Linked DNA regions of Homo sapiens. The protein of the gene in region 4 purifies or fractionates together with the protein of the main gene of each other region. This does not show direct contact. Each region holds a gene or a part of one and is shown on either strand. Other genes may lie near its edges. The genes, in order: ETFB, NHLRC2, IARS2, ASS1, EPHX1, ADK and PITRM1.

The links.
Region 1: the proteins of ASS1 (region 4) and ETFB purify together in Homo sapiens (affinity purification with mass spectrometry; one large-scale study listed by BioGRID and IntAct). This does not show direct contact.
Region 2: the proteins of ASS1 (region 4) and NHLRC2 fractionate together in Homo sapiens (co-fractionation; one large-scale study listed by BioGRID). This does not show direct contact.
Region 3: the proteins of ASS1 (region 4) and IARS2 purify together in Homo sapiens (affinity purification with mass spectrometry; one large-scale study listed by BioGRID and IntAct). This does not show direct contact.
Region 5: the proteins of ASS1 (region 4) and EPHX1 fractionate together in Homo sapiens (co-fractionation; one large-scale study listed by BioGRID). This does not show direct contact.
Region 6: the proteins of ASS1 (region 4) and ADK fractionate together in Homo sapiens (co-fractionation; one large-scale study listed by BioGRID). This does not show direct contact.
Region 7: the proteins of ASS1 (region 4) and PITRM1 fractionate together in Homo sapiens (co-fractionation; one large-scale study listed by BioGRID). This does not show direct contact.

The regions. Positions count from the first base shown.
Region 1 is NC_000019.10:51,347,029-51,349,388, reverse strand, and holds part of ETFB (electron transfer flavoprotein subunit beta), read left to right. Parts: intron 1-2,330; coding exon 2,331-2,360. UniProt on the Homo sapiens protein: Heterodimeric electron transfer flavoprotein that accepts electrons from several mitochondrial dehydrogenases, including acyl-CoA dehydrogenases, glutaryl-CoA and sarcosine dehydrogenase.
Region 2 is NC_000010.11:113,857,661-113,861,160, reverse strand, and holds part of NHLRC2 (NHL repeat-containing protein 2), read right to left. Parts: intron 2,634-3,500; coding exon 2,481-2,633; intron 2,475-2,480; exon of another isoform or gene 1,159-2,474; intron 1-1,158. UniProt on the Homo sapiens protein: Required for normal embryonic development.
Region 3 is NC_000001.11:220,107,632-220,111,131, forward strand, and holds part of IARS2 (isoleucine--tRNA ligase, mitochondrial precursor), read left to right. Parts: intron 1-3,154; coding exon 3,155-3,306; intron 3,307-3,500.
Region 4 is NC_000009.12:130,479,461-130,482,960, forward strand, and holds part of ASS1 (argininosuccinate synthase), read left to right. Parts: intron 1-255; coding exon 256-340; intron 341-924; coding exon 925-989; intron 990-3,500. UniProt on the Homo sapiens protein: One of the enzymes of the urea cycle, the metabolic pathway transforming neurotoxic amonia produced by protein catabolism into inocuous urea in the liver of ureotelic animals.
Region 5 is NC_000001.11:225,808,661-225,812,923, forward strand, and holds the start of EPHX1 (epoxide hydrolase 1), read left to right. Parts: upstream 1-1,463; 5' UTR 1,464-1,509; exon of another isoform or gene 1,510-1,955; intron 1,956-4,263. UniProt on the Homo sapiens protein: Biotransformation enzyme that catalyzes the hydrolysis of arene and aliphatic epoxides to less reactive and more water soluble dihydrodiols by the trans addition of water.
Region 6 is NC_000010.11:74,392,221-74,395,720, forward strand, and holds part of ADK (adenosine kinase), read left to right. Parts: intron 1-1,920; coding exon 1,921-2,093; intron 2,094-3,500. UniProt on the Homo sapiens protein: Catalyzes the phosphorylation of the purine nucleoside adenosine at the 5' position in an ATP-dependent manner. Serves as a potential regulator of concentrations of extracellular adenosine and intracellular adenine nucleotides.
Region 7 is NC_000010.11:3,155,783-3,159,282, forward strand, and holds part of PITRM1 (presequence protease, mitochondrial isoform 2 precursor), read right to left. Parts: intron 3,261-3,500; coding exon 3,132-3,260; intron 2,372-3,131; coding exon 2,258-2,371; intron 1,750-2,257; coding exon 1,653-1,749; intron 1,283-1,652; coding exon 1,148-1,282; intron 1-1,147. UniProt on the Homo sapiens protein: Metalloendopeptidase of the mitochondrial matrix that functions in peptide cleavage and degradation rather than in protein processing. Has an ATP-independent activity. Specifically cleaves peptides in the range of 5 to 65 residues.

The DNA.
Region 1 (2,360 bases), on a different chromosome or scaffold from region 4:
AACAGACAAAATTATATTTTATTTCACCCCATTATATCTAAAATATTATTTTAACATGTAATCAACATAAAAATATTAAGATACATATGCTCTACAAGCAATGGGGTTACGTCCTGATAAATCCATCATAAATTGAAAATATTATAACTGAGAGAATGCATTTAATATTCTTAATCTACCAAATATCATAGCTGAGCCCAGCCTACCTTAAACATGTCACAACACTTAACGTTAGCCTACAGTGGGGTAAAATAATCTAACATAAAGCACATTTTATAATAAAGTGCTAAATATCCCATGTAATTTATCAAATACTGTACTGGAACTAAAAAAACGGAATGGTTGTACGGACACTGGCAGTATGGTTTCTACTGAATGTTTATCACTGTCACATCATCGGAAAACTGAAAAATCTTAATTCAAACCATCATAAGTCAGGGACCATCTGTATTTTACGTTTTTTGGATTTTCTTTGTACTAAATCTTCAAAATTCAGCATGTATTTTATATTTACAGCACATCTCAATTCAGGTGCTAAATTTCTATGAGAAACACATTCCTAAAGATGACAGTTGAAATAGATTTACACACCCAAGTTGTTCAAAACAAACTTAAAAGTTTTCTAGTAACTGCATTTCCAGTAACTGCATTGGGTATCTGTGTTTTTTTGTTTGTTTGTTTGTTTGTTTTTGTTTTTTTTTTAAACAGCTTCGTTGAGTTATTTACCTACAATAAACCGCACATATCTAAGTTGCACAATTTGTTAAGTTTGCTTTTCTTAAACTCTTTTATTTAGATAGAGATGGGGGTCTCACTATGTTGCCCAAGCTGGTCTTTAACTCCTGGGCTCAAGCAAGCTGCTCACCTCAGCCCTCCAAAATTTAAGTTTTGATATGTGTTACATCCATGAAATCATCACCACAATCATGATAATGTGTCTTGAATTCTCAGTATTTATTTATTTTTATTTTTTTGAGGTGGAGTCTTGTTCTGTCCCCAGACTGGAGTGCAGTGGCGCGATCTTGGCTCACTGCAGCCTCCGCCTCCCGAATTTAAGCGATTCTCCTGCCTCAGCCTCCCGAGTAGATCGGATTACAAGCGTGCATCACCATACCTGGATAATTTTTGTATTTTTAGTAGAGACAGGGTTTCGCCATGTTGGCCAGGCTGGTCTTGAACTCCTGACCTCAAGTGATCCACCCGCCTTGGCCCCTCAAAGTGCTGGGATTACAGGCATGAACCACTGCGCCTGGCCAAATTATCAGTATTTAAATTTAAATAAAATGTAAAAATTCATTCCTCAGCTGCACTGGCTGGACAGCCACACGCAGCCAGTGGCTACTGGATGGGACAACACATTCAAAACCATTATCCTGTTTTATCTTCAAAGCATTTACCACTGTCTGACTAGCTTCTCCAACGTGCGCCCTTCTTGCTCTCATATCATGTGTCTTATTTTCTTCTTATTCCTTCTGATTGGAAATGATCTCATTTGTGTGTGTGTGTTTTTCCCTGGTGACTGGTTGTCTTCCCTGGCAGAATATGAGCCCACCCAAGCTGGTGCTTCACTGGTCGTGTTCACAGTGTGTCTCCAGGGGCAGGTTCATAAGGGCACTAGGAGGAGGTTGTGAATGAAGGGAGGTGATGTTCACACTAAGACCTGAAAAATGTGTCCAGTTAATAAGTGGACAGGGACAAAGGTCGTTAGACAAAGAGGAGTGTAGGTGGCATCAGTTACCAGGGGAGGAAATGTTGATTCAGGACTGAGAGGCAAAGGGACCTGGCTAGAGGACGGGGTCCCAGAAGGTGGTTTAAGGACTGGTGTGGACACACACAGTTCTGTTGTCTGCCCAGCGGAGGGGCCTCACGGGGGGCCGTTGGGAGCCAGATTGTCAGCTTTTGGATTTACCAGCTGTGGGTGGCAGTGGGCGTGTAACTCAGCATCTTGCTGCCTCAGTTTCTCTCATCTGTAAAGTGGGGATAATAACATTTACCTCATAAAGTTCCTGCGAGGATTCGATGACTTGATACATCAGTTGCTTAGCACAGGGCTCAGCACTCAGTACATGTTCCCTGTCAGGAAGGCAGGGAGGCCTCACTGGCAGCATCAGGACATGGGACATCAGGACATACACCGTGGCTCTCAGGGAAAGGAAAAAGACCCTCTCCCAGGTGTACAAGCTCGATTCTAAACCTCATGGGACCCTGCATTGTTCGCTCCCTCATTCATTCACTAGTCCATGCGTGTACTCAGTAGTGGCATAAGCAGACTGCTCGGGTCGGACCTGAATTAGCCTCACCCACTCTCCTCCTACACTGTCCCTCCCCAGGGCACATTCGCCTCCCAGGTGACGCTGGAG
Region 2 (3,500 bases), on a different chromosome or scaffold from region 4:
TTGTTCCTTAATCATTTCCATTGCCTTATCTTCAGGTTCACTGATTCTTCTTTCTGCCTACTCAAATCTGTCTTCGAGTCTCTACATGGCCCCTGACCTATGAGGGTATGACTTATAATTTTTCAACTTTACGATGAGTTTATCTGGACATAATTCACTGTAAGTCAAAGAGCTCCTTAGGATTTAGAAAGTTATGATTTCTACTGAGTATCACCTTTCCACCATCAAGTCAAAATATTTTAAGTCGAATCATCATAAGTCAGGGACCATCTGCTGTGCTACCAAGCATTAAACATACTTTCTCAACTTCATGATATTTTCAACTTACCATGGGTTTATCAGCTGCACTATAAGTCAAGGAGCCTCTGTAGTGAGTTTCTCCTCACTGTTAGTCCACTTTTCAGTTCCAGAATTTCTTTCTAGCTTCTATTTAGGTTTTCTCTTTATTGTATTTCCATTTTCTTCATACATTGTTTTTTTAAAACTTTTTCCATATTTCCCTTTAGTTATTTGGGCATCTTTAAGACAGTGTTTTAAAGTCTTTGTCTCATAGATATGTATCAGGTATTTTTTAGAGACAATTTCTATCGGTTTATTTTTTTCCTTTGAATGGGCTGTACTTCCCTGTTCTTGAATGGGCTGTACTTCCCTGTTCTTTGTGTATGCTTTGTGATTCTTTGTTGAAACTGACAGTGAATTCTTGCTCCACTTACAAAGTATTTTGCTTTTCAGAAGCATATTTGTATATAAAAATATTTTTAATTTTTTTGTCACAATGTGCTATAAAAACAATGTTTCCAGTAAACTAGTAGGAGATTATAAGGATCCATTCTAGGAAGTCACTGAATCTGCTTAAGGTATGGGGTTAACCATGAGTTCACCAAATAGTCTTTCAGGGGTGATCTTAGGTATGGAACTGGTAAACTTTGAGATTCTTAACTCCATGTGTAATGCCATTCTAAAACACAAATGTCATCCGTCTACTAAAAAAACAAATCAAAAACAAACTTCAATCTCTGTATCCTCACAGAAGGAAAAGTCTAAACTATTAAGAACGCTATACAATGCATTTCACAATGTGCTCCTAACCTAACCTACCTTTGTCTCCTTTTACTTTTACCATGAACTCTTACAATCTTGCCACACTAAATTATTTACCTGTTCTTGGAGCAAGAATCCTACTCCTCTGTGATTCCATGCTTGTTTACCTGAAGCTTCCTCAGCCAGGAGTGTCCCTTCTGCCCCACTTTCATTTTCAGCTGCACTCCTGCTTATTTTTCAAGTTCTAGCTCAATTGTCTCCTTCTCTGAGAAATCTTTTCCAATGTTTCTAGGCAAAGTGACTTATTCCTTTCCTTAGGTTCCATAATGTTTTTTATTCAATTTTGTTACATATTTCCTCAGCAGTTAGCAGAGTACCCTGCACATAACAACATGTTCAATAAACGTGATGTCTTGAACAAGAAACACTGGCATCTAAAACCTAGGAGATAAGATATCCATATTTCTTAAATCCATACAGATAAATTTTTAATAACAGGATTTAGCTAGTAGAAATATTTGAGTTCTTGATAAATCATTTGACTGGTAATTTTAACATACAATGTATTACAATTCAAAAGCATCTGAAGTTTCAGTTGCACTGAAGATTTCTCTATCACTTCCCCTTTAAAGTTAAGTTTCAGAATATCCTTTACTTTCACACGTATATAGTCTATTCTCATCTTTACTAACACAGGATCGGTGACCCTATCTCTTTTTTTTATCCACTCCAAGATTAGTGCTTCAATTCACTTGAACCTAATTAAATGATACTTTTAATTAATTTCATTTACTCCCATGTTCTTTTTTTAGAAAGTAGACAAAAAAAATTTGATTAATTTTTCAAACTTCTAAAGCCAATAAGTATAATCTCCTACATCTTTAGAATTTGTAATACCATAAAAATGGATTTCCTAGTGTGCTTTGAAAAACATTAGCTGTAATAAATCATTTTTTAATGAAGCAGGGTCAAAGAAAGAGTATCTGTTATATTTTGCATTCCACTGCAGTTCATGTCATTCAATATTAATGAAAGCCTAGTCACATTTCCTAATAAGAACTTTAAACCTTTGTATCACAGTGAAAACAGTGTAAAATTAAGGTCAGATATTTTATTTTTTTAATAGAACAAATTTAAGTCAGCCTCAACATACAAAAAGACCTTTTAAAATATCTGATCATGAAAAATAGCAAATTATGCCCCTATCCGCAGAGAAAAACCATATACTAAATGCTGGTTCTTTAGATAGGCAAACCACTATCACTAAGCTTAATCCTTTATGAAAAGGTACATGAAGTCTTTAATTCATAGATAAGAGATTACTTTTAGAATCCCTGAAGCCTTGCCAAATGTTCATTCTCCTATGAGCTAATGAGTCAGCCACTCTTCCAGTGACTATGCCAGGACAGTCTGTTAGAAACTAATTAAAGAGCAGATACCTTTATCAGAGTATGTGTGTTCTAATGCATGGAGATCAGGCAATAGGTGAATACAGTTTATGCAGCAGTAGGTGAAGAAATCAAGGACGACTATTTTTCCACATAGATCCTTGTAGACAGAAATAGGTTCTTCTGTGTTCAGCCATTCTAATCCTGAAATTTACATAAAATAAATTACAATGATTAAAGAGAAAGATAAAATTTACCTAAAACTTTCCATTAAAATGTGACCTTTTTTTTTAAGACTAATGCAAATAAACACTTTGAGAGAGTAGCACCATATAAAGGCTGTGGCAGTTGCATGTATTTATAGTTGTTTACTATGAACCATCATTTTCTATCAACAAAAGAAATAAAAGATATATCTTTATGACTGTAACTAAACAGGTATTTGGGTTTGGAAGAACATACCAAAAAGGCAAATTAGCAGAGATTAAAAGCCCAAAAAGGGAAGAAAGAAAAGGAAGGGATGGGGGTACGGGTGGGGGAGCAGGAGGAGTAGAGGATGGGAAAGCTGCTATTATGATGCCATCTGCAAATAAAGCAAGAAAAAGCTACTAAATTCTTTCAGAAATAGGGTAACAGTCTGTGAAAAGGAGTAAAGGCAACACACTTAGGCAAAAAAAAAAAAAAAGGAAGAAATATCAAATAGTAAATGAACCTAATTACATAAACAATTAGATACAAATGGGCTACTGAGAATAAAGGTCAAGCTTAAGAATAGTAAGATATAACTAAACATCAAAAAGGAGTGAAATGTGTGTAAGGATAAACATACAAAATGCCTAAAACAGTTTCCTAAAGGAGAAGAAACTGAAATATTCTGGATTTGGATGAGACCGTAAATACAAAATAAAATATGCTAAATGTAAAGTTAAGCAAAATACACTTATTATTGTCACAGATTTCATTGAGGTAACATTAATATTAATGAAGAACGTGTTCCCTTTCCTCCAAAAAAAGAAAGCTCTGTACTATGAAGAAAGATTTTGTTAACTAATAATAAAGTACAGCATCCCT
Region 3 (3,500 bases), on a different chromosome or scaffold from region 4:
TAGACCTGATATATTACTTTTCTAGGGCTACTGTAAAAAATCACCGTAAACTTGGTAGTTTGAAACAACAGAAATTTATTCTCTCAAGTGCTGGAAGCTAGAAGTCTAAATTCATCGTACTGGCAGGACCATGTTTTCCTGAAGGTTTTATGGGAGAATCCTTACTTGCCTCTTTCTAGCTTTTGGTGGCTCCTGGAAATCCTTGGCATTCCTTGGTTTATAACTGCGTTACTCCACTCTCTGCCTGTCTTGTCACATGGCCTTCTTTAGATCTTACTTGTTTTTTCGAGACAATCTCACTTTCTCACTCAGGTTGATGTGCAGTGGCATGCTTTCAGCTCACTGCCACCTCTGTGTCCTGGGTTCAAGTGATTCTTGTGCCTTAGCCTCCTGAGCAGATGGGATTACAGGCATACACCACCACACCCAGCTAATTTTTTTTTTTTTGAGACACAGTCTCACTCTGTTGCCCAGGCTGGAGTGCAGTGGTGTGATCTCAGCTCACTGCAACCTCTGCCTCCTGGGTTCAAGCAATTCTCTTGCCTCAGCCTCCCAAGTAGCTGGGATTACAGGATACACACCACTACTCCTGGCTAATTTTTGTATTTTTAGTAGAGATGGGGTTTCACCATGTTGGCCAGGCTGGTCTTGAACTCCTGACCTCAGGTGATCTGCCCACCTTAGCCTCCCAAAGTGCTGGAATTACAGGCGTGAGCCCTCACTGTGTCAGGCCATAATTTTTTTATTTTTTATTTTATTTTTATTTTTTTTTTAAGACGGAGTCTCGCTCTGTTGCCCAGGCTGGAGTACAGTGGCACGATCTTGGCTCACTGCAAGCTCTGCCTCCTGGGTTCATGGGTTCTCCTGCCTCAGTCTCTCGAGTAGCTGGGACTACAGGCGCCTGCCACCATGCCCAGCTAATTTTTTGTATTTTTAGTAGAGATGGGGTTTCACCATATTAGCCAGGACGGTCTCGATCTCCTGACCTCGTGATCCACCTGCCTTGGCCTCCCAAAATGCTGGGTTTACAGGCATGAGCCACCGCACCCGGCCTATTTTTTATTTTTAATAGAGACAGGGTTTCACCATGTTGGCCAGGCTGGTCTCAAACTCCCAGCCCCAAGTGATCCACCTGCCTAGGCCTCCCAAAGTGTTGGGATTATAGGTGTGAGCCACCGTACCCAGCCACCTTCTTTAGGTCTTAAATGTCTCTCTGTGAATCCTCTTTTTTTTTTTTTTTTTTTTTTTTTTATTGGAGGGACTGGTTCTTTATTTCAAAAAGACACTTGTCAATATTCAGTATCAAAGCAGGTGGACTATTGATTTCTGTTTCTCCCAATCGGCCCCAAAGAGACTATATCAAAGGACAGTACGTTTTAAGCCAGTATGCTGCAGGATGTACACCTGACAGACTTTACAGAAACCTTATCGGAAAGTGGGGATTGGGTAGGGAAAGAAACTTTAAAAGATCAGCAAACTGCCAGCCCGGCCAGGCACGGTGGCTCACCCCTGTAATCCCAGCGCTTTGGGAGGCTGAAGCGGACATATCACGAGGTCAGGAGTTCGAGACCTGCCTGGCCAACATGGTGAAACCCTGTGTCTACTAAAAATACAAAAAATTAGCCAGGTGTGGTGGTAGGTGCCTGTAATCCCAGCTACTCTGGAGGGTGAGGCAGGAGAATCACTTGAACCTGGGAGGCAGAGGTTGCAGTGAGCTGAGACTGCACCACTGCACTCCATCCTGGGCAACAGAGCGAGAGTCCATCTCAAAAAAAAAAAAAAAATCTGCCAGCTCACAGACTGTAGAGGGCTGTCACAGTCAAACTGGGTGGCCAGGGTGCCACCCAAAGAAGCAAAGTTTCAAAATAATACAAAAATTTAAAAAAGTTTTGTACATAAGCTATTTAAGATTTCTCTAGCATTAACTGATATTAAGCACAATGAGATGGCACTTTTAGAGACAGCAGCTTCAAACCCAGAAAAGGGTAATGAGATGAGTTTCACATGGCTGAATCAGTGGCAAAAACATAATCTTCTTTCTATCCTCCTCTAAGAACACCAGTGCTCCCTAATGCAGTGTGACCTCATCTAAACTTGATTACATCTGCAGAGGCCTGATTCCCAAGTAAGGTCACATTCACTAGTGCTGGGGGTTAGATCTTCTTGGGGACACAGTTCAACCCACTACACCTGGTTTCCTCCAGATTACCTGGAGACCATTTTAAGATTCATGGCATGAAAGATTATGGATCTAAACTTCAAATGTAGAATTCTAGATATAATCTGTTCATCTTTTCTTTGACGTGAAAAGAGGTAGAAGTGGCATAATTTGGAGTCTGATTAAGATTTTACAGTCCGTGCTTTTTTTTGCCAGGAGAATCCCAGAGCACGCCTTTGATACCTGGAAGGTGACTACTCTTTTTTATTTTATTTTTTTTTGTGAGACAGAGTCTCGCTTTGTTGCCCAGGCTGGAGTGCAGTGGCACAATCTCGGTTCACTACAGCCTCCGCTTTAGCTTAGGTTCAAATGATTCTCCCACCTCAGCCTCCCAAGTAGCTGGGATTACAGGCTCACACCACTGTGCCCTGCTAATTTTTTTGTATTTTTAATAGAGATGGGGTTTCACCATGCAGGCCAGGCTGGTCTTGAATTCCTGACCTCAAGTGATCCTCTCGTCTCTGCCTCCCAAACTGTTGGGATTACAGGCGTGAGCAACCACGCCCAGCCAAGTTGACTACTCTTTTATTTTTTGAGACGGAGTCTCGCTCTGTCACCCAGGCTGGAGTGCAGTGGCACGATCTCGGCTCACTGCAACCTCTGCCTCCCAGGTTCAAGCGATTCTCCTGCCTCAGCCTCCTGAGTAGCTGGGATTATGGGCACACACCACCATGCCCGGCTGATTTTTGCATTTTTAGTAGAGACGAGGTTTCACCATGTTGGTCAGGCTGGTCTCGAACTCCTGACCTCGTGATTTGCCTGCCTCAGCCTCGCAAAGTGCTGGGATTACAGGTGTGAGCCACTGTGGCTGGCAAGGTGACTACTCTTATTGCCACCTGTTGCTGCAGATTTAGTATTTTCTGGAAGTTTAGAGCATTTTTAGGATTTTCACAGTACTTTTTAATTATGTCTAATTTGGTGTTTTTTTTTTTAAAGTTATAAAGATGCTTCAGACTGCAAAGAATTTGTTGAAAGAGGAGAAATTGGTGCATAGCTATCCGTATGACTGGAGGACCAAGAAACCTGTGGTTATTCGTGCCAGCAAGCAGTGGTTTATAAACATCACGGATATTAAGACTGCAGCCAAGGTATAAAAAGCATCCTGTTTTAACAGGTCGGGCATATCATTCCCTCAGTATAAAGGGGCTGCATGTGAGGTTGAGGTGGGGTTTCAGGAGTAATAGGGATTGCTGCTATTATGATTTAGTTTCATAACATTGTAGAATTTTAGATCTGGAAGGACCTTGGACTTCCATTTTTTCATTATACATGTGTGAGAAAT
Region 4 (3,500 bases):
AAGGGGCAAAGAGAATGGGAGGGTGGGGGAGAGCGTTTTTATTGCATTTTCTCTTTCATTCTGGGGGGCTTTCTCGCCCCTTCTCTCCCTGCAGCAGGCCTCAACCTGCACAGGGCTTTTGAAGGAGTCATTTGGAGTCCATATCTGTCACATCCATTTAAGGCGTTTCGGGAGGAGGGAGAGGGTGGGGTGGCGGGTGCAGACTCCTCCGCTGAGCCGGGCCCAGAGGCCCACTGCCCTCTCTTCCCACCCTAGGGGTCCCTGTGAAGGTGACCAACGTCAAGGATGGCACCACCCACCAGACCTCCTTGGAGCTCTTCATGTACCTGAACGAAGTCGCGTGAGTGTCTGCAGCCCTGTCCGGCCTCTTGGGAACCGCCGTCTCGGGCGAGCACGAGCCTGGACCGTTGCAGCTAATGGTTGTGGCTGAGGCTCAGGGGTGCGGAGCACAGGCCATGTCCCTTCCCCATAGCCACAGAGTTTCCCGGACCAGGGGGACCCATTTGGCAGGAGAGGCTCCGTGGTCCTTAGCCTTGGAAGATAACAACCCCAGGAGGTCTCCTGCCTCCAAGGGATCATTAGGCCGGGGCTCTCAGGCCCTTGGCTGGATGGGAGGCCAGGATAGAAGGAAAGGGAGCAGTAGTTAGCTGTGGCGCTAGGCAGGGCCCCAGGACACAGGGAACGGAAGGAACAATGTGAACTCACACCTGGGCAATCCCTGCTCTCTCTGGGCCTCAGTTTCCCCACCTGTCCAGTGGGCACCTGGACTAGGTGACCCGGCTCAGATGTCCTCTTGAGTCTTAGATCCTGAAATGCTGCCTAATGTGTGGCCTAAGCTGTGCCCACCCTGGGACAGCCCAGCTGGGTGGGTGACTCTGAGCCTTGCGGTAGCGCCCGAACCTAATGGACCAGTTCTTCCCACAGGGGCAAGCATGGCGTGGGCCGTATTGACATCGTGGAGAACCGCTTCATTGGAATGAAGTCCCGAGGTGAGTCTGCTCAGCCTCCCTCAGGGCCTGCCTCGGGACCCAGCAAACCCAGAGATCCCTGAGACCCTGTCCCCTTTGGACGCTACTACCCCCATGCTCCGTGGGCGACCTTGGGCACGTCCTTTCACCACACCCCGTGAGACCGCAGTTTCCCTCCTGCCAAGTGGGGATCGTGGGCCCTTTGCCCCTGACTTTCAGGGTGTTATGAGAAGAGCTGTCCAAGGGCTGGGAGAGGCCCAGGAGGGCCTGGGGAGTCTCCGAGGAGCAGGGAGGCCAGGGCCAGGCCTGGAGGTCAGGCTGTCTTGTGTCTGGGGTGGGCAGGCCGGGTGTGGAGGCAGACCGTGCAGGCCCGATTTCGTGGTCATTAAGGCCGCATGGAGGCCGCCGGCCAGGCAGGGCGAAAATCCTGCCAGGGGTGGGCGCTGTGGCTGCACAGGCACTGGGAGCCGGCCAGGGCCTAAGGACCTGTCCCAGCATCAGGCACGGCTCACTGGCCCTTTTCTCCAGGGATGGGGCTGTGCCACAGTTGGGGCTGTGCCGCAGTTGAGGCTGAGCTTCAGTGTGACATGCCTGCCACCTCGGCTGGCCTCTAGCCTGCCTAGCCTCGTATCCGCCTGTGGCTGGGCCCAGGAGCAGGGCAGTTGGTCCCCAAGCAGGTGCCTCTGTCTTCTCTTAGTAGCCAAAGCCCATGATTCCCTTTGTCAGCCAATCAGCATTTCATCTTGACCACAACCCTCCTCTCCAGGACTCAGTTTCCCCATTCATACACCAAGGGGATCTCAGCTCCCTGAGGGTCTGCCAGTGTGTGATAAAGCCATGCTGTGTTCTTTCTTGGGGGTCCTAAGAGGGAAAGAGCAAGGTTTCAGCAGTTGCAGCCCCTGAATTGGGCACCTGAATTTTTATACTGGTGGTGGGGTCAGGGCTTCCTGTTTCGGTAAATGTTCAGGTCTCTTTGCTTAGGGTTGATTTGAAAAGATACCACAACCAAATATCACCTGGCCACGGTATAGTCACGGCCCCATGTCTCTCAGGCTATTTTTACTAAGATTCTAAAATCCAAAGAGAGCCGATCACCCCATGTGGGCCAGAAGAAAAGGGTGGTGGTCCGGAGGGCAGGATGCCTGCTTCTGGTCTCAGGTTTGCCCTGCCTTGCCCAACAACCTTGGACTTGTCATCTATCGCTAGGCCTCAGTTTCCCCAAGTGTAATGCGGTAGGCGCTGGGAGTTGCATCACTCTGGCTCTGACCTGTCTGCGTTTCCCTGGAAAGGCATGGCAGCATGGACCGGGGCGGGGACGGGCTTGCCTCGAAAGACATGGGAGCGCGGAAGGGGAGGCAGGCTCGCCTCTTTCTTGTGGCTTTAGCTCCTTGCTTGCTGTTATTCAGGAGAAACAACCTAATTGAAGCTCTGGGGAGGCCTTGAGAACAATGTTACTAATTAGCTGCTCCTTTTTATCCGGGCTTACCTTTGTCTCTTACCTATATTAACATGTGATTAGATGCCCCTTTGTCGCAGCCTGCCCTTGGGAGCCAGCGCGGTGTGCACCCTCCAGGGAGAGCTGGGAGGGACCTTGAGGAGCCACAGACCAGCACCCCATTTACAGATGCGGAAGCCAGGGCTGGGGAGGGGTGGGATAGAGGGCTTGCTTCAAGTCCCAGGCACTTTAGTGGCAGGACCAGGACTGCCATCTGGGCCCAGAGTGGCATGGAGTGGAGGGCTAACAGCTTAGACTGGAGTTGGACAGATCTGGGTTCAAACTCATGTATGGTGGCAGGAACTGGTACACTGGAAGTGCTCCATAAATAGCCATCAGTCCCCCGGGCATGTGGAATGGGGACAGAAGCAGCCCCCATCCTCTGGGAGCTGTCAGTGTGGCGGGGGGTGGGGTGGGTTCCAGTATTGCACCTGTCTTATCATAATAAGGGCCTGCCACAGGCATGCCCTTGCCATGCCTGTGGCAGGCATCACCAGTCAATGCTGGCATTATCCTGTTGACTCCAGAGGTATCTCAGGGCTGCTTGCAGGCACTACCAAATGATCAGGATTGGCATACGTGATGAAAGTGTATTGCCTTCCCTATTGGAAAGATAAGGACTGGCCTGAAGTCACTGTGAAATGGCATCCTGTGGGGTGGGGCGAGTCAAGCAGAGTTGAGCAAAAATGAACTGAAGGAGGTGGTTAGTGATGAAAACCTGGAATGCACTATTCTGAATGTGGAATGGTAGCTGACAGCATTCCACGGAGGCTGGACCTTTTTCCCAGAATGGGGGCCTCATCCCCGTAGAAGGTCAAAGCCATGAGATCAACAGTCTGTTCCAATCCCCGTGGCTCCTTACCACCCACCTGGGGAAAGCTTCCTGGAGCCCAGCCTTCACTCTGCCCTGGTACTTTGTGTGTGCTGTTGGAGGCTCTCCCCAAAAGCACAGAATTTAGTCAGTGTCGTACAGGGAAGAAAATCGGGATTCTGACGGCAAGAACTTGCTGTGTGATCTTAGGCAAGTTTCTCCCTCT
Region 5 (4,263 bases), on a different chromosome or scaffold from region 4:
AGCCCCACCTCTGGCGTTAAGTCCTGACTCCTACCTGTTTCACCATCACTGCAGTTTTAAGAGTAACGAATTTGGGTCCCCTGGTGAAGTGGCCAGAGGCAGAGCTTCTGTGTGAACTATTTGGAGGGGAGGGGAAAGAACTCTCCCAGACTGCAGGTTCTGAAAGGAATACAGAGATGTCAGAGACTGCAGTTGCAAGAGAAAGCTTTTATAGGAGGGTGTAGAATTAAAGGACAAGAGGACTCTACATGTGGATGGAGGAGGGCACCCTGTCCGGCAGTACTGCAAGAGCAAAAGTTTGGAGGTGGGAGTGAGGTGAGTGCGTCTGCCGGCCAGAATTCTTGGGCCAGGGTGAGCAGAAAGGTTGGAGGCCAAGGGAAGGTGGGTGGTGGTGAACCTTATCCTGAAGTGTGCAAGGTGACAGTCAGAAGCTTAGAACTCCAGCCACGGGCCCTGCATGTGGCCTCCTAGCTGTAGTCTGTCCACCGAGATCGTGAGGATGCTGGTGGTTGAAAGAACTGCACCTCTGAGCAGGTGAAGAGAGAAGCTAAGGAGGGGTGATGGCAGAGGCGATGGGACAGGCTTTCTAACGATGAGGGGCTGGGGATCAACGCTCTCACGGAAGCTAAAAGAGCCCCAGCAACCACCCGCCTGGGCCCTGAGCTCTCTCCAAAGCGGGAGGGGATTCACTAAGAGGTTGCTCCCCTGGCATTGAACTCAGCATCCTATACTGGTCCTCACCATGAAGACCCCCAAGAGTGCTTCAGACCATTGCTTCTCACATTCTCTGTATAAAGACACTAATTTGTTTTTAGATTTCCAAGCATGTCACGGACCAATATGTTTGTTAAATATACTAAGAATGAATTGCTAGAAAGATGAAATTAAAAAGACATACACCGCCAGGTGCAGTGGCTCACGCCCATAATCTCACCACTTTGGGAGGCGGAGGTAGGTGCATCGCTTGAGCCCAGGAGTTCAAGATCAGCCTAGGCAACAAAGTGAGACCCCCGTATCTACAAAACTTAAAAAATTAGCCAGGTGTGGTGGCGCAGTCTGTAGTCCCAGCTATTCTGGAGGCCGAAGTGGGAGGATCGCTTGAGGCTGCAGTGAGCCGAGATCGCACCACTGCACTCCAGCCTGGGTGATAGAGTGAGACTCTGTCTCCAAAAAAAAAAAGGACATACATCATGCAAGTTTGGATTTTTGTTTTTAGATTCAACTGACGAAGTTACGGGATCAAACTGCTGTAGGAGCTGCCAAACGCTTCTCTCCATTTCTGGCCGCGGGGCCGCGGACCGCCCTTTAAGTAGCCCGTTTTATCCCTGGCAGAGGTGGAGCCTTAGGCAGGCCTAGAGACTTTCCCGGGTCCTCCAGGCCGGGGAACGCCCCGCTCGGAGGCCGGGCTTGGGCGGAGACTGCGCCGGGGCTGCTGAAAACTAGCCGAGGAGAGCCAGGGAGCCGGAGAGATCGCGCGCCTGCCGCCGCCGGAGCCTGCGAGCCGAGACCGTAAGCGCCCGGGGCCGGCCGGGCCCGCACTCCCCGGACGCAGACGCGGTTCGGGCTCCGCGCGGGCTCGGCCGCCGGGGTGGGCGGCGGGCCGGGGCGCCGAGGGGTCGGGGCTGCGGTCGGCCCGCAGGGGTGCAGAGGGACTTGTAGTTGGTCCGCCCCCAGCTCCTGCCCCGGCCAGGAGACTGCGCGTGCCGCCTACTGGGGGAAGGAGCCTGCAGGCGACCGCGGACTTCTCGCAGGGAATTCCGCGTCCCAGACTGTGGGCGGACGCCGCAGGGAGGGAGGCTCGCGACCCCGAGAGCGCACCGCGTCCCCTGGCCTGGGCGAGCTCTGCTTCCAGGGCCGTGGCTCGCTCGGCGGTGAAATGCACTTAATTTGTCACCCAAGTCGGAACACTGATTTTCATGCGCGTCCGTGTGAAGAGACCACCAAACAGGCTTTGTGTGAGCAACATGGCTGTTTATTTCACCTGGGTGCAGGCGGGCTGAGTCCGAAAAGAGTCAGCCAAGGGAGATAGGGGTGGGGCCGTTTTATAGGATTTGGGTAGGTAAAGGAAAATTACAGTCAAAGGGGGGTTCTCTGGCGGGCAGAGTGGGGGGGGTCACAAGGTGCTCAGTAGGGGAGCTTTTGAGCCAGGATGAGCCAGGAGAAGGAATTTCACAAGACAATGTCATCAGTTAAGGCAGGAACAGGTCATTTTCACTTTTGTGGTGGAATGACATCAGTTAAGGCAGGAACCGGCCATCTGGATGTGTAGGTGCAGGCCACAGGGGATATGATGGCTTAGCTTCGGCTCAGAGGCCTGACACTGATCACACCTTTTAGTTGAAATGCGCTTTCATCTCCATCTGCTGCCGCAGCCGCCGCCCGGCACCCCCTCGCTCTGGTCTCGGGATTGAAGGCCAGCCCTCTCCTCTTGTAGAACAGGAAACTTGCCCGGGAGTTCACCTTGTAGTTGAAGCCAGGGAATGTGGTCAACCTGAGCAAAAGCGCCGCGGAGACCGAGTGGCCGCCTGCCTCCCTCCCTGGCAGATGTCGGTTTTCTCTGAGCTTCTGGCTCCTTCCTTGCCCTGGCGGCTCCCGAGATCTTGGAGGTGGGGTGCCTAGCAATGTTGTAATCCTAATTTTGACTTTTTTTTCTTAAAGTTGAATGCCCCCTCCATAGCCCACCTCCCATTGTTTAAACTTCAGGTTCCGCAAAGCCTGGATCCGCCCCTACAGGCAACACTCGTTGTCCTGGAAGTTCTGTGAGGGCTCAGCTTGTGGCTGGAGGTGGGAGGTGAGGGGGACCCATGCACTTGGCAGGCCCGCTTCCAGGACAGCCCTTTGCTGGGATTGATGAGCTGTTGGTGGAAAATTGTTGAGGACCTTGGGGTTGGTGGCTGTTTCGGTACCACTGTGCAGCCTCCTCTGCATCCAGCATAATTTAAAATAAACATTTTCAGGAAGCCACACTTCTCCAGAAAGTAACATTGTTTTCTGGTGTAACGGTTGCCTCCTTCAGGGAGCTAGGTTTGGGGGATAATAGGGGGCCTTTCACTGGCCCCACTTGGTCTGACTTAGCAGCAAAAACTCTGCGAGTGCTCTCCAAGCAGTTTTTCTTTCCCAAATTTCCACACCTAGGAGGCGCTGAGGAGGCATGGGCGGTACTTAGGAACTGCTCACTGTGGAACTGAGGCACAGCGGGGAGCATGCCCTCGTGGGATTTGCAGTTCTAGGGGCAGAGGGATAATAAACAAAATACATTTGTAAACTATAAAGTATGTTAGAAGATGATGTGTAATATGGAGATAAATAAAACTTTAAAGAGGGGAGAGGAGTGCCAGGTGGAAAGGGAAGGCCTCACTGAAGGGTGGCACTGGCATAGACCTGAAGAGTTAGGGAGCAGCCAAGCTGCTGCCTGGGGTGCAGGTGCAAAGGCTGGGGGCAGGAGTGTGCCCAGCTTGAATGGCCTGATGTTTGTGTTTGCAGAGTGTGGGTCAAGCTGATGAGTGACCTACTGGATAAACTGAACTAGCTCAGTCTGTAAGTGAGGGGACTCCTGAGCTTTCTGCGGCCTTCTTCCCAATTCCAGGAAAGGAAGGACCTTCCACAGAAAATAACTACTCAGCAAGACAGCCAGGGTGAACCTCAGCACCATCTGTGACAAGCCACATGCTCTCTGCGTGATGCCTCCTGCCTCTCAGCTGTGCCTGAAGCACACTAGCTGGCATGGACTTACGCGGCTGGGAACATCTTCAGGAAGCCCTGAATGAGGGCTCTGTGGGCAGAGGGACCTTTGCAGAAAGGGCATCTTGACCACTGCAGGAGGTGGAGTGACTCTCCTGGGGTGTCCTGGTTCCTGCCTGATGTCTTAAGCATAACTGGCATTTTCAGGGAGCCCAGGTTCACCAATGCACAGTGCCCCTCCTGTCGACCTGATACCCAGGCTTGGTGATTGCTCACCTGGCACCTTGATTCCCGTTCTGGTATCTTGGCCCAGGCCCAGACATGTGAAAGCAGGGGCTACCGAGATTCATTTCTCAGTTCTTACGCCAAGAGGTTCAACCACATGGATCACAGCTGGGTGTACCAAATAAGGGAGGACCAAGCATGAGCTGGTCACCCCTGCTGAAGAAGTAGCTCGAAGCCCACCCACTCGGGGACAGAGTGGGCACAGATGGGATAGACAGATAGTGATTCGAGGGGTGCCTAGGATCTCATACTGAAAACCCACCTCTGCTAGGGCCATAAATCCCATCAACAGCAATT
Region 6 (3,500 bases), on a different chromosome or scaffold from region 4:
TCTTTCAGGAACTTCCATACCATTTTAGTAGTGGCTGTACCATGTTACATTTCCACCAACACTGCACAAGGGTTCATTCACTTCTCCACATTTTGCCAGCATTTTTTGTTTTCTGTGTTTTCGGTAGTAACCATCCTGATCAGTGTGAAGTGATATCTCATTGTGGTTTTGATTTCCCTGATGATTACTGATGTTGAACATCTTTTCTTGTGCTTATTGGCCATTTATATATCATTTTTGGAGAAATGTCTATTCAAGTCCTTTGCCCATTTTAAGATCATGTTATTTGTATTTTTATTGTTCATTTAGAAGTTTGTTATATATTCTGGATATTAACCTTTCATTGGATATATGGTTTGGAAATAAGTTGCCTTTTCACTCTGTTGATTGCCTCCTTTGCCATGCAGAAGTTAAGCTTGATATAATCACATTTATCTATTTTTGCTTTTGTTGCCTGTGCTTTTGTTCCATATTTATGAAATCATTGCTAAATCCAATGTCCTGAAGCTGTCCCCCATATTTGAAAATAATATATATTATTAAGTTTTATTTTTTAAACAAAGCTTTTTACCTTTGAGACTTGATTTTTTTTTGAAGTTAACAAAATATCCTGGAAATTACTTTGTATAGAAGGAGTGTTCCACAGAGCTTTTCCTTTTTTTGTGTTGTTTTGCTGGGATTTTTGAATGGCTGTGTGGTATTCCATTGTGTGGATATATCATAATTTAATCGACTGATCTTCTACAGGTGGACTTCTAGTTTATTTCCAACATTTTGCCATTACAAATAACATCTCAATACTTATATATGTGTTGTTTTATATTGTGGATGAGTCTGTAGAAGTGGGATTGCTGGTCATTAAGCTGTTACTATGTCTCATTCTTACAGTTCTGTCTTTGTTACTTTTTCCTCTCCTCATCCTTTTACCTCTCAAATATGCATGTATTTCTTTTCTATTCCAAATATTTGAGAACAGATTTTATCAAAATCTATTTTGATATCTTTTGACTTTGTATGTAGATTATTTGTAGGTTATTTTGCTACCTGTAAGTCTTTGAAACTAAACAGGTGTTACCTATAGAATCACTATAGAATATTAGAACCCTCAGGGATTTGAGCTAATTATAAAAGGTAAAAAGTTCAAATCTGTGAAACATATGCATCTTACAAGAAATCCATTAAAGCTTATAATAATTACTTCAATGAAAAAATGAGATATTTGTAACTAGAACTGTAACACTATTTCTGAATTTTTAAAAGAATTTTTTTAGATATGAGCATGTTTTAGCTTAATTTATATATGAATTACTACAATAAGTATGACAATCATAGTAACAGCCACAGCTAATATATGTTGTTGACTATGTGCTGGGTACCATGCTCAGCAATGCAAGTACATTAATTTACATCATTTCAATTAGTCCTCAACGACCTTATGAGATGTATTTGTAATTATATCTCCACTTTAAACATGAGTGAAATGAGAAATGTTAAGAGATATGCTCTAACATGCTCTAACTCATGCAGCTAGTAAGTGGCAGAAGCAAGATTTGAACCCAGAGAGTCTTCAATCAAGATGGATTCTGCTCTTTTTATGACAATGCTAGACTTCTTATATTGGGACCCACTATTATTTTCCTATATCAGGCCAGCATTTGTCTTAAGGTCTGTATGATTTTAGCTGCTGAGTCCTTAACAACTTTATGTACTTTATTTCTCTCCCCAAAGCAGTATAAGATATTACATGGTTGTTATATTAAGTTTTTTTAATCGTAAGTGATAGCACAGAATTGAAATCCCATTCATAACAGCTACAGTTTCTCACAAAGCATTCTTGTCACATCACTATCTGTGGCAGAATATTAAACTATGTGTACCATTTTTTTGCCCCATTAAATTATTTATGTTCCTGTTTTACAGTGGATGATTCAACAGCCACACAAAGCAGCAACATTTTTTGGATGCATTGGGATAGATAAATTTGGGGAGATCCTGAAGAGAAAAGCTGCTGAAGCCCATGTGGATGCTCATTACTACGAGCAGAATGAGCAGCCAACAGGAACTTGTGCTGCATGCATCACTGGTGACAACAGGTCAGTGTAATTCCAAGGGAACCACTATACTAATTGGCTATTTTAACACTGGTAAAATATGAATTCCAATGTGAATTTGGAATTTTGACTTTATAATTCCTTTTAATGTTTGATAAATGCTTATTCCTTATATCAGTTTTCCTGTATTGTTTTTAAATTTACTTTTGTTAAACATGCAGTTGAATTCATGAGGCATAATGGAATAAAAGTTTGAGGTTATTTAGTCCAGTCTCTACTTTTTATAATTAGAATCAGAAAAGGCTGATAGCTTGCTCAATGCCTTGTAGCTTGCTCAACACCTTGTAGCTAATTTGTTGCAAAACTTGAATTAGAAACAATGTTCTTTTCACCATATCCTGAGGTTGGAATACGAGAGAGAGAGACAGAGAGACAGAGAGAGAGTGTGTGTGTGTATTTTATGTATATAAAATACAACATTACATTCAGGCTCGTAAGACTTAGTCATCTAAATGGTCATCTAAACCATTTCTGGCAAATAGTAATTCATTCATATTGAATAAACTCAGTCGTGGGTAGTATACCACTAACAAAACAACCAAGTATATTTCTATACACCCTTACTTATTAGAAAAGTATTCTTAATATGAACTTGAAATATCTCTCTCAGGCCCCTCCATATATTGGTTGGTTGTTCTTTTGTACCCACATGGAGATACTCCTTCAGTGTATTCATGCACTGCTAACGTTATTACCATATCAGCACAGGCTTTTTTCCCCTTTGCAAGGGAAAAACAAAATAACTGCCCTAGCTATTATATTGTTGGGATAATCAAAGATGACCTCTTTTTAAATAGTGATTCACTAGAAATTTTGCATTACTTATAGTTGGAAATATGTAGTCTGTCCTCCTCCATTCCCTATCTCCTTTCTTTTCCCATCTTCTCTTCCTTTCTTTTTTTCCCTTTTCATCCTCCTTTATTTTCTTCCCCCTCTCCACCACGACCTTGCTCCATTTCTTCTATTTACCCACTTTATTGCTCACTACTTGACCTTCAGCAGAGGTATATTAAGGAATGGACTATTCTAGAGACTGGGGATCAATAAGCACAGTATTTACTAAATAACCAAAATACAATATTCAAAAATTATTAGGGTATGAAAGGCATTTTCAGATCTTTCCTTTAATTTTGTTTTTTATATACAGGAGAACTTTATGGTTTTAAGATTACAGTAAACATTGAAATATGGGATTCAGGGATTTTAAAAAAAAACAACTAAAAATGTTGAAATATGTTTGTTTAGACCTTTGCCCTTAGTTTTCCCAAGACCAGCCTTAATCTGTAGGTGCAAAGTTTTCCCATTAGTGAGAAGTAGGTCAGATTTTCTTCTGATATCACTTAGGCTACAGTAAAATTACTAAATTGTTTTAGTATGCTAAATTGCTGT
Region 7 (3,500 bases), on a different chromosome or scaffold from region 4:
TCCTAACACTCAACAAGCTTCTGCTGGTGTGTTCTTGGTCCTGTGGTTCCACTTTCCCACTTTAAAAATAGTAATAATAGAACGCACCTCAAGAGTTGTTTTGCTGATGCAAGTACACAAGCCTTATAAAATGCTTACCACCATACCTGCCTATGTAGTAAGCACAGAATTCATATATGCTGTTATTCTACTGTTATTATTATTATGGTCATTAAGTCTTAAACATATCAATACTAAACATTTTCATTACATCTTAGTTGTAAAAAGGTTTGCACTTTCAAGTACTACAGATCTTGGATTTTAGTCTAATTGAAGATAATATAGAATTCTATTTTTTGTCTAGCGTTCATTCTACTATTAAGCTCTAAAAGGCTAGAACTACATTTCCCATTCAATACTTCGTAAGTTATTAGAACAAAATACATGTTGACGTTAATATAAAAATGAACATTAGGTGATTTCATGTCCTTTCCTTGTTTCAACAATTAAAAAACTACACATGCACAAAATGCTCCCATATAAAATACTACAAACAGGTGAGATAACTAGAAGACACCAGAAAGTTCATGGAAAATAACTTACAACAGCTGAGAGAAACTGCAGGTCAAATTATTAAATCATATCTCATGTCTAAAACAATGGAACCTACTGGAGAGTTTCCCTTCACAGCAGACAACAGTCTCTCCCACCACGGGAACCCTTTTTAAAAGTTCTACCATAGTAATGAGTACAAAGCAAAGAACAGGCAACCAAGCACAACTGCCTAAAAATCTGAGAAAACAAACGCGCAAGCATCAAAAGAATTCACTCATGAAAACCAGAAGATTCATTACATTTGGGTGACTGTTCACATATTTTATATTCTTCTACTAATAAAAGAACAATATATGCAGATGTTTTGTTCATACACACAAACATACATATATTCACACACTAAAAATGCACATATACATTTATCTAAAAAACTCAACTTGCATTACAATCTGGAAAATAATTAAGTTAATGTAAGCATTTAAATTTTTAATTAGAAATTAAGTCACCCATTAACAGAAATTACTTAAATGTATAGATTATGTTCCTAATATTCCTTTCATTAGTATAAAATTCAACTTCAAAATTAGAGAAATGAATTATCCAACTTTCTTACCTTAAAATACTGTTTTACTTTTTCTTGCAAAAATTTTGGATTTTCCTGCAGGCACTGTCTGAATTTAGCTAACTGATTTCCCAACTTCAAGAGCTCCACAGGGTCCCCATCATGGTTCCAGCAAGAAGCTATGTACTGGAAGGAAGATTTCCACATCCACAATGCAGCTGGTACCACAGTACAACCTCCACCAACAGCCCAGACTTGATACTAAAATCCTAGTTTCTGTATTTAAATATACCACAGATGATTGTTTATAACAAAAGTCATGTAATTCTTTGGATGGAGAAACAAAAAAACTTACTTTAGCCCTGTTTTGTTCCAATAAAATAAAAAGCACAGGCTGAAATAATGTTTAGGAAATAACCAACAGATTACTAGTTATAAACCCTTACCCATTTAAAGTAATCTATTTCACATAAAAATATCAAAAAGCCAGTTAAGCTAGTAACAAGACAAAATGTCTATTATAAAACAAAAACAAAATTGTTGAGAGATCACTTACTGATGTCAGCATCAGCCCAAAGCTGGTAGACTGATGTTTCATCTGTATTTCAATTTTATGAAGTAAAGCCTCAATTCGATCATCTTCAAATCCTTTCCTAAAGAATACAATGAAGAACAAAGATGGGCCAGACACAATGGCTCATGCTTGTAATCCCAGCACTTTGGGAGGCCAAGGCAGGAGGACTGCTTGAGGCCAGGCATTTAAGACCAGCTTGGGCAACACAGAGAAAGCCCATCTCTACTACACAAAAATTAGCTGGGCATGGTGGTGTGCACCCTAGTTCCAGCTACTTGGGAGGCTGAGGTGGAAGGATCACCTGAGCCTGGTAGGGGAGGAAAATGCAGTGAGCTGAGATCACGCCACTGCACAGCAGGCTGGGTGACAAAGCGAGACCCTGTCTCAAAACAAAACAAAAACCTAAGATGTTGAAGAGTTTTAGTAACAGAAGGTAGCAGAGATAATATTTAAACAACTAAATATGAACAAAAGCATGTTATATGACAGAGAAGGAAGGCCGAAACAATGGATCAGGCTCAGCTTCTCCCAAAAAGCACACAGGAATGAGGAACGAAAGCAGATTGTTACAAACAAGCTACACTCACTCAACTACTTCATCAATCGTTCTGTCTATGAGGCTTCTGACGGTCTCAATGTCTTTCTCCGCAATCCCTTGGAGGCCGACACTAAAGTAGGCCTCCCTCGTGTAGCCATTATATCTAGAAGACAAAACCAGAAATGATGCACTGGAATCCGGGCACGTTCATCATGCCCTCGTAATATGCTTGATTTAAAGATCAGAACGAAGCGCCTTAAACTCCAGCCCCTCCACTGAAAAGCTCATTAAAGCAGTGTTCTCAAGTAACTGGTTCTGTGTACATCCATGTCATTTTTACATCATTTTTTAAAAATAAAATTTAAACTTTTGAGTTATGGCAGGATAAATATCAAAACAGAGAACTGCTGAGATTTACAAAATTTTAAAAATTCCTGTAGTCCCAGCTACTCTGGAGGCTGAGGCAGGAGAATGGTGTGAACCCGGGAGGTGGAGCTTGCAGTGAGCCGAGATCGCGTCACTGCACTCCAGCCTGGGCGACAGGGAGAGACTCCATCTAAAAAAAAAATTCTAATACTTAATGACCTGACCTGTAAGAGACAACAGCATGACATTCTGAGGCCCTGGAAAAGCTGTCTTTGTGCTGGGTGTTTTTCTTTTGGACAAATGTCCCCTTGGGGGGACACAAATGGCTGGCACTGGATCCAGGATCTCATCCAGAGTTCCCTGATGGGGGCGGCCATCCTGTGTACCATGAGACACTCAGCAACTTCCTGGTCCGCCATCTTCCGATTATAGCAATCAAAAATCCAAAAATGTTCCAGACACTGTCAAGTGTGGGGCCGGGACAGGGTGCGGAGGTGGAGGAGCAAAACTGCCCCCAACCAATGAGAACTACTGATCTAATCTAATCATAAACTCACCCAACATCAGGAGAAAAGTCTGTGCCAAGGCCAGATTCAATCAAGGCTTTGTAAAAGGGAGAATTGGGCCCAGAAGTCAAGAGTGAAGACAGAAGACTTAATGTGAAGGCTTCAAATGTGTCGGTGATGCTGCATTGAAAAAAAAAGGAACGGGGAGGTAAGAAAAGAGTAAAGGGAAAATTACTGGCCCTTATGCACATTTTATTTAAAACCACTACACATCTTTCTAGAAATTCTTGCATTTCAACATTTAACAATTTTATGAGCAGAAGAGAATTTTCCTTAAATACCGGGATTTTTGAAGGGGGGCACAAACCATCAAATTAACTTCACTGCACACGAAATGCTCACCATGGGACAGCCTGCCAA